2 linked regions of the Homo sapiens genome follow. The protein of the gene in region 1 interacts with the protein of each later gene in a biochemical or structural test. Each region holds a gene or a part of one and is shown on either strand. Other genes may lie near its edges.

Region 1 (5,508 bases):
GTCTCAAACTCCTGGGCTCAAGTGATCCTCCTGCCTCAGCCTCTCAAAGTGTTGGGATTTACAGGTGTGAGCCACCACACCTGGCGTGGACTGGATAATTCTTTGTTGTGGAGGGCCATCTTGTACATTTTAGCATGTTTATCAATTCCTGGGTACTACCCATTAGGTGCCAGTAGCACTCTTTCAGTTGTGACCATCAAAAATGTCTCCAGACTTTGCCAAATGTCTGGTGGGGACAAAAGGGCCCCCAATTGAGAATCACTCTTCTAGATAAAAAGTATATATGAATTCTGTCCTACTCTGTTCAGTTAGGGATTCAAGATCAGTATACTATACATAAAACAATTAGAGAACAACTAAGTGCTAAATTAAGTTTTCTGGCAATGGTTTCTGATTATATATTTGTTTGATTTTTAAGGTATACATGCATGTAGTTTCAGAGTTAGAAGGCAAAGTAGTTCTATAAACCTTGTAACAAAAATAGCAATTCTTGAGGCCTGCATCATCTAGGTTCAGCTTTTCAGAGGCAACACTTTAAATTGTTTCAGCTGGTAATGTTCTAGGACTGTACCTCCATATCTCTATAACACAGATGTATGGTTTTTTTTTATTAGGCATTATCCATGGACTTTTCATTATGAAAGATGAAGATTTCTGCCCTAACCCCACACCCCTACTCCCCACCACACACAATTGTCTTCTGAGGTGGGGATAGGGTGACCCTCTCCATATATATCATGAATATCATAATTTTGTAAGATCATTAGTCAATAGTTACATTAGTATAACTAAATGCTTTTCACAGCTGAGCCATTTTGCATTTTATAATTATTTTTCTGTTTCTGCACAACATTGTTTTTCTTGGAGTTAATAATTCTCTTTTTAAAAATATTTGCTTAATTTAGGATGATCAATAATGCATTCCAAAGTCTCTCCAGGTTACATGTATCCTCTCAAAACATTCAGGCAAATTAAGTGTCCTATTAAGGATTCCTTTTTTTTTTTTTTTTTGAGACAGAGTCTTGCTCTGTCACCCAGGCTAGAATGCAGTGGCGCATCTCAGGTCACTGCAGCCTCAACCTACCAGGCTCAAGTGATCCTCCCGCCTCAGCCCCCAAAGTAGCCGGGACTACAGCTATGCACAACCATGCGCGGCTTGTTTTTTTTTTTTTTTTTTTTTTTTTTGAGACGGAGTCTCACTCTCTCACCCAGGCTGGAGTGCAGTGGCGCTATCTCAGCCCACTGCAACCTCTGCCTCCCAGGTTCAAGCAATTCTCCTGCCTCAGCCTCCTGAATAGCTGGGATTACAGGCGCGTGCCACCACACCTAATTTTTGTATTTTTAGTAGAGATGGTGTTTCACCATATCGGTCAGGCTGGTCTCGAACTCCTGACCCTGTGATCCACCTGCCTCTGCCTCCCAGAGTGCTGGGATTACAGATGTGAGCCACCGCGCCTGGCCTAAGTTTTTGTATTTTTTGTAGAGACGGGGTTTCGCTGTGTTGCACAGGCTGGTCTCGAGCTCCTGAGCTCAAGTGATCCGCCCACCTAGGCCTCCCAAAGTGTTGGAATTACAGGTATGAGCCACAGTGCCCTATTAAGGATTCTTAATGAAATCTTGGAGCCTTCTAATCTGCTCCAGTCTGGACTGGTTGTTCTCTGGGCCTCCTGTGTACCTGTGGACTTCATTTTCTGTGAGATCATTCTAGGCATTCCCTTTAACTCCCTCTTGTGTAAGGCCCCATGTCATCTTTTTTGATTTATTTGCTCAATTTGGTAGAACCCATTTTCCAGTAGTATTGTAGAAACTATTTATTTATTTATTTATTTTGAGGTGGAGTTTTGCTCTTGTTGCCCAGGCTGGAGTGCAATGGCGTGATCTCGGCTCACTGCAACCTCCGCCTCCCGTGTTCAAGCGATTCTCCTGCCTCAGCCTCCTGAGTAGCTGGGATTACAGGCATGCGCCACCACGCTGGCTAATTTTGCATTTTTAGTAGAGACGGGGTTTGTCCATGTTGGTCAGGCTAGTCTTGAGCTCCTGACCTCAGGTGATCTGCCCGCCTCACCCTCCCAAATTGCTGGGATTATAGGCATGAGCCACCGTGTTTGGCCAGAAATAATTTTTAATTTTCAACTTCTTTTGTTTCTTTTCTTCTTATTAGCATCCCGTTCTTGTTTTATGGATGAAATGTCTTGTTTTTCTTCAACAATTTTCTAATTTTTCTTGAAAATTTTTTTCCTTGTGGACATTGTTGCTCATCCCTATAATCTCAGTACTTTGGGAGGCTGAGGGAGGAGAATCACTTGAGCCTAGGAGTTCAAGACTAGCCTGGGCAACATAGCCCGTGTCTAGAAAAAATTTAAAAAATTAGGCTGGGCAAGGCTCACACCTGTAATCCTAGCACTTTGGGACGCTGAGGCAGGAGGACTGCTTGAGTCTAGAAGTTCAAGACCAGCCTGAGCAACATAGTGAGACTTTGTCTTCACAAAAAATTTAAAAAATTAGTTGAGTGTAGTAGTGTACACCTGTAGTCTTAGCTATTTTGCAGGCTTAGGTGGGAAGATCTCGTGAGCCTGGGAGGTTGGGGCTCCATGAGACGTGATTGTGCCACTGCACTCCATCGTGGGCAACAGAGTGAGACCCTGTCTAAAATATTTTTTTTTCCTTTTGAACTGGTCAGATTGTTTAGAGCTATGTTTTTCAAACTGCAGGTCTAGACCTATTAGGAGATAATAAAATAAATTTAGTGGTCATGAGGAGCATTTCTTTTGAGACAGAATGTCACTCTGTCACCTAGACTGGAGTGCAGTGGTACGATCACAGCTCACTGCAGCCTCAACCTCCCAGGCTCAAGTGATCCTCCCACCTCAGCCCCCAGCTACAGGCACATGCCACCACACCCAGTTATTTTTTTTTATTTTTTGTGGAGGTAAAGTTTTGCCATGTTGCCCAGGCTGGTCTCAAACTCCTGGGCTCAAGTGATCTTCCTGCCTCAGCCTCCCAAAGTGTTGTGATTATAGGCATGAGCCACCACTCCTGGCCCACATTTCTTTTTTAAGTGAAACAGAGCAGTAGATATCAAAATGCCTTGCCCATAGTAGTGATGAGTGGTTTTTTTCCTGAAATTTTGTTTCTGTTATGTATTTATATTTATTTGTGGGTTTTAGTTATGAAATCAAATGTATTCCTTACTGTGGCTTTTGGTCAAAAAGTTTGAAAAACATTGCTCAGGAGAAAACTGCCTCTTCTCATTTCATTCCGGGAGGGTATTTCTGGCTGCTGGCTTCTGAGAGCTGAGTAGGGAAAGAAGGCTGAGGTTCTTAACATTTGGTTTGGAAATTTTTACATATTTATCCCGTTTTCAGTACATTATTCCTGCCTTAGACTGTGCTTGGTGTCCCCAATCCAAAGACGCTCTATTTTACGGTCTCCAGAGAATAAGCCTGGAGTCTTCCACGGGAGTGGGGGAGGTGCAGTCGTCTAGCTTTACAGCATAGGGGAGGGGATCCGGGAATCTGTTTCTTAAACATTGAACCACCTTGCAATTTTTAGCTCCTTGTTCATTTCCATTTCCAGAGGTCCTTGTTGCCACCATTTCCTTTTTTGAGGTCCTGTGATAAAAATCAGGTTGTTTCTTTACTTTCTTTACGGCTGGTTTAGGATTTGGATTACCCAGGTATCACTAACCTATCTTCTTTTTAGCTTCAAAGTTTTGTTGCTGTGTCTTCTCCCACTCTCTGTTATAGTGGATTTATGCCTTTTTAGAAGTCCTTTAATCTTACATCAATAGACTTAAGGAAGGCGTGGAACTAATGTTATGTCTTTAGTCTGCACCTTTAACTAGAAATATGAGCATTCATTTTTATTTATTTATTTTTTGAGATGGGGTCTCACTCTGTTGTCCAGGCTGGAATGCAATGGCGTGATCTTGGCTCACTACAACCTCTGCCTCCCGGGCTCAAGCAGTCCTACCGTTTCAGCCTTCCGCGTAGCTGGGAGTACAGGCATACGCCACCAAGCCTGGCTAATTATTGTATTTTTTATAGAAACAGGGTTTCACCATGTTGCCCAGGCTGGTCTTGAACTCCTGGACTCATGCAATCTGCCCACCTCAGCCTCCCAAAGTGCTGGGATTACAGGCATGAGCCACCATGCCCAACCTGAGTACTCATTTTTTTACATAAAATTTTTTGACAGTTCATCTCCTGTAGTTATGCAGGTATCCACTGATTAAGAAAATACATGACAAAAAGCTGGTGTACATTTAATAACACTTCTAAATAAAGTCACAACTCAACACATTTGAAAAATAATATATATGCGTGTGAAATGATCATTCAGTCTGCAGACATGTTAAGCAAGTTATACATAAAGATTCGTGGGATTCTTTGGAACTCTTTGCAGTGCTCACACTTGGCAGTGATTACTTTGTAGAAATAACTAAATATAATGGAATTCAAAGCAGAAAGCATAGTCATGGAAGGCTTTGATGAGTGGAATTTGGATTGGGGGAAGGAAGAATGTATTCCAGGGGAGACAGCATGAGCAGAGGGGTGCAAGGGTAGGAGATAACGTGGCTTGAGCCAGTGGGCTGGGCTATACCTGAGGGATTTTGTTGGAGAATAACGAGTAGTGAAGTTGGAAGGGAAAAGTGGCATCAGGATATGAAGGCTCTGGAAGTTTATTTGGATATATTATAGGCAGTATAGGGTGATGTTAATTCTTGAGAGAAGAAATATAATGATAATAGCATTTTATTAGATCAGTCAGGTTATAACATTAGAGATACATTGAGAGAGATTAAAGATGAGAGAGGCTATTGAAGTATCTAGGCATGGAATATGAATAACATTTGTTCATATTTGGCAGGCACCATTTTAAGCATTTTATAATATATAATGTGTTTACCCTTCTTATTATTATTGTCATCCTCATTTTGCAGGAAATGGGCATAGAGGAGTAGATGACTGGGAGTTACGTAGAGATAGAGATGAATTCCAGGTATATTGTGGACTTCTAGCGACCTTAAATAATTAATAGTTTTACGTTGTTGGTGGTGATGATGGTGGTGGTTCTTTTCGTCCCTCCCTACCTTCCTTTATTACTTTTTTGGAGGTCAGGTAGGTTGGGGAATATCATCACCTCTTGGGACAGACCAAGGTAGATGGCAGAGGTGAAAAGAGGCCAGGTCCAGAGAAGACATTAAGAGTTTTATTACTTTCTTGCCCACTATGTTTAGAACTTTTGAATCCTCCGTCCTCCAAATATTGGCATTAGAGAGTGGATTTTTCCAGTGTTTGAAAGACTTTGTTGAACTTACTCTTTTGGGGTTCTGGGAATTACATGGGTAAATTATAAAGAAAACATTAAAAATTTTAAAAAAATTTAAGGGAGAAAAAAGAACTTTTTAGAATCACAAAATTCTGTAAATCAATGTTCTTGCTATTGACAGGAATAGTATATTAATTACTTACAGTATGTTAGGGTGCTCCTTCTCTCTGCCTATAA
Region 2 (3,510 bases), on another chromosome or scaffold:
ACCTCAGGTGATCCACCTGCCTTGGCCTCCCAAAGTGTTAGGATTACAAGTGTGAGCCACCGAGCCTGGCCAAGATAGTTTAAAAAAAAAATTATATCTACATTAAAGCCACAAGTCACCCTTTGCTGAAGTCAGTATTAGTAGTTGGAAGCAGTGTGTTATTCTTGACCCCATGAAGTGGCACTTATTAAGTAGCTTGCTTTTCCATAATTATGGCCTAGCTTTTTAAAACCTACTATGAACACCACAAGCATAGAGTTTTCCAAAAGTTCAAGAAGGAAAGGAAACCAATTATACTGAATCAGGTAGATTCTTAACTGAAATAATTAGATGTTTTAATAGCCTCTTATGAACTTTCTTCCAGAACCAAAAACTTTTGCTAGAAAATCAGCTTTTACGAGAGAAAACTCATGGCCTTGTAGTTGAGAACCAGGAGTTAAGACAGCGCTTGGGGATGGATGCCCTGGTTGCTGAAGAGGAGGCGGAAGCCAAGGTAAATCATCTCCTTTATTTGGTGCCTCATGTGAGTACTGGTTCCAAGTGACATGACCCAGCGATTATGTTTACAGTCTGGACTTCTGATCAAGAGCGTTCTTGAAATTTTCCTTCAGTTTTAAGACATTTTCATGCAGGCAGAGTGTTCTTCCCCTAAAGGCACTTGACACTCATTTTTTAAGTGTGTAGTGAACAGTACTAAGATCTAATAATGAAAACAAGTTACATGGCTCCCTAAGAACAAGTACTAACAAATGCAGTAGCCAACAAGATTACCATGCAATCATTAAGGAGAACCAAAGTAAGAGAGCCACTCAAACCAGATTTTGAACGCTACTAAAATTAAAGTAGTTCTTTGATGAATATGAATGAGTAGGGAAAGGATTCTTTGTAATAGTGATACCTCTGTGGTAAGAGAAGGGTGGTATGTGAGTTTTAGTCTACAGATTATGGCAAATTCAGTGACAACAATCAAATGGTCTAAGATTGACAGTAGCACAGTTTTACTCTGTGAAGGTAATGTTCAGGACAAATTTCAAGAAAACTAGAAAACCATTCTTTACAGCTGAAATCTTTCCCTAACCATTGTTATTTCCACTTTTAAGTCCTCAAGAGATGAGAAAAGGGAGGTAAGGCTTCCTTATACATTTCCTGCACAATGAAACATTTTTCCTCCTCCAGGCAAAGATTCAAGCAGAACTGGCAAATATCTTATCTTGCTCTTCTCAATAATAATAATGTTGTTAGATAATAAAGTTCTATAGCAATTTAACCCTAGAATCTTTTTGAAAAGTAATTCTTTAAAGTTGAGAATCACAGCTGTCTAGCAAGCATTTCCTTGGGCACTTGAAGCTGTTTATTCACTTTGGTCTTTCCTCCCAGGGGAATGAAGTGAGGCCAGTGGCCGGGTCTGCTGAGTCCGCAGCACTCAGACTACGTGCACCTCTGCAGCAGGTGCAGGCCCAGTTGTCACCCCTCCAGAACATCTCCCCATGGATTCTGGCGGTATTGACTCTTCAGATTCAGAGGTAGGGATCATTCTGACTTATTAAAGAGCTATATAACCAGTTAATTCCATCTGTTTGATGCTTGACATCCCTAACTAGACAGATGAGGGTTGAAGTTAGTTTTTGGTGGGGTTGGAGGTGAACATCAACTACCTTCCTAGTTCCAGGTAATATAGAACATGGAGTGAAGTGTAGATAAATGGGTCTGGTGGGTCCCGAGGTCATCTTATCACATAATGACTAATTTACATTATGGAACCCAGTACAAAGTGTTCCAGTTAGATTTTCCATTGTATTCTGACAGTTGTACTTCATTTAATTTTTGCCTCTTACAGTCTGATATCCTGTTGGGCATTCTGGACAACTTGGACCCAGTCATGTTCTTCAAATGCCCTTCCCCAGAGCCTGCCAGCCTGGAGGAGCTCCCAGAGGTCTACCCAGAAGGACCCAGTTCCTTACCAGCCTCCCTTTCTCTGTCAGTGGGGACGTCATCAGCCAAGCTGGAAGCCATTAATGAACTAATTCGTTTTGACCACATATATACCAAGCCCCTAGTCTTAGAGATACCCTCTGAGACAGAGAGCCAAGCTAATGTGGTAGTGAAAATCGAGGAAGCACCTCTCAGCCCCTCAGAGAATGATCACCCTGAATTCATTGTCTCAGTGAAGGAAGAACCTGTAGAAGATGACCTCGTTCCGGAGCTGGGTATCTCAAATCTGCTTTCATCCAGCCACTGCCCAAAGCCATCTTCCTGCCTACTGGATGCTTACAGTGACTGTGGATACGGGGGTTCCCTTTCCCCATTCAGTGACATGTCCTCTCTGCTTGGTGTAAACCATTCTTGGGAGGACACTTTTGCCAATGAACTCTTTCCCCAGCTGATTAGTGTCTAAGGAATGATCCAATACTGTTGCCCTTTTCCTTGACTATTACACTGCCTGGAGGATAGCAGAGAAGCCTGTCTGTACTTCATTCAAAAAGCCAAAATAGAGAGTATACAGTCCTAGAGAATTCCTCTATTTGTTCAGATCTCATAGATGACCCCCAGGTATTGTCTTTTGACATCCAGCAGTCCAAGGTATTGAGACATATTACTGGAAGTAAGAAATATTACTATAATTGAGAACTACAGCTTTTAAGATTGTACTTTTATCTTAAAAGGGTGGTAGTTTTCCCTAAAATACTTATTATGTAAGGGTCATTAGACAAATGTCTTGAAGTAGACATGGAATTTATGAATGGTTCTTTATCATTTCTCTTCCCCCTTTTTGGCATCCTGGCTTGCCTCCAGTTTTAGGTCCTTTAGTTTGCTTCTGTAAGCAACGGGAACACCTGCTGAGGGGGCTCTTTCCCTCATGTATACTTCAAGTAAGATCAAGAATCTTTTGTGAAATTATAGAAATTTACTATGTAAATGCTTGATGGAATTTTTTCCTGCTAGTGTAGCTTCTGAAAGGTGCTTTCTCCATTTATTTAAAACTACCCATGCAATTAAAAGGTACAATGCAGCATCCTTGTTTGATTTCTTCTAGGGCCGTAAGTCTTGTTTTCTCTCCAGATGTTTATCTGTGTGCTGTGGTAGGAATTAATCCAACTGAAGTGAGCCTAACGCTTTTTAAAGTGACTGAAGGCTTTTCCACCTTAATTACTGCCTGCTTTAATTCTGGACTGCCATAAGTGATATAAGCTATAATTTGAGCAGTTACTGTCTTTCTGAGACAGATTCTTGAGCCTAACTGACCAATATCACAGCTAGTAAGTGGAAGAGCTAGAACCCTAACCACTATTTGCTACACCATCTTATAAATGTTAAACAAGGACACACCATCACATATCGAGATTCTCTTGCCCTTATTATGGGAATTAAGAGCATTTTCTAGACTGAAACTCCCTATTTTCAACTCTGCCACTGGTAAGCTGGGTAACCCAGGGGTTATATATAATCACTTATTTCCTCATCTGTAAAGTTGGATAATGGTATCTCTAAAGGTTAAGATTCAAAGAGACG

The links. The genes of interacting proteins can lie anywhere in the genome.
Region 2: the proteins of PSMA5 (region 1) and XBP1 form a complex in vitro, tested with the Homo sapiens proteins (one study listed by IntAct).

Annotation. Positions count from the first base shown.
Region 1 is NC_000001.11:109,415,476-109,420,983, reverse strand, and holds part of PSMA5 (proteasome subunit alpha type-5), read left to right. Parts: intron 1-5,508. UniProt on the Homo sapiens protein: Component of the 20S core proteasome complex involved in the proteolytic degradation of most intracellular proteins. This complex plays numerous essential roles within the cell by associating with different regulatory particles.
Region 2 is NC_000022.11:28,794,060-28,797,569, reverse strand, and holds the end of XBP1 (X-box-binding protein 1), read left to right. Parts: intron 1-364; coding exon 365-493; intron 494-1,377; coding exon 1,378-1,416; coding exon of another isoform or gene 1,417-1,442; coding exon 1,443-1,523; intron 1,524-1,837; coding exon 1,838-2,395; 3' UTR 2,396-3,010; downstream 3,011-3,510. UniProt on the Homo sapiens protein: Functions as a transcription factor during endoplasmic reticulum (ER) stress by regulating the unfolded protein response (UPR).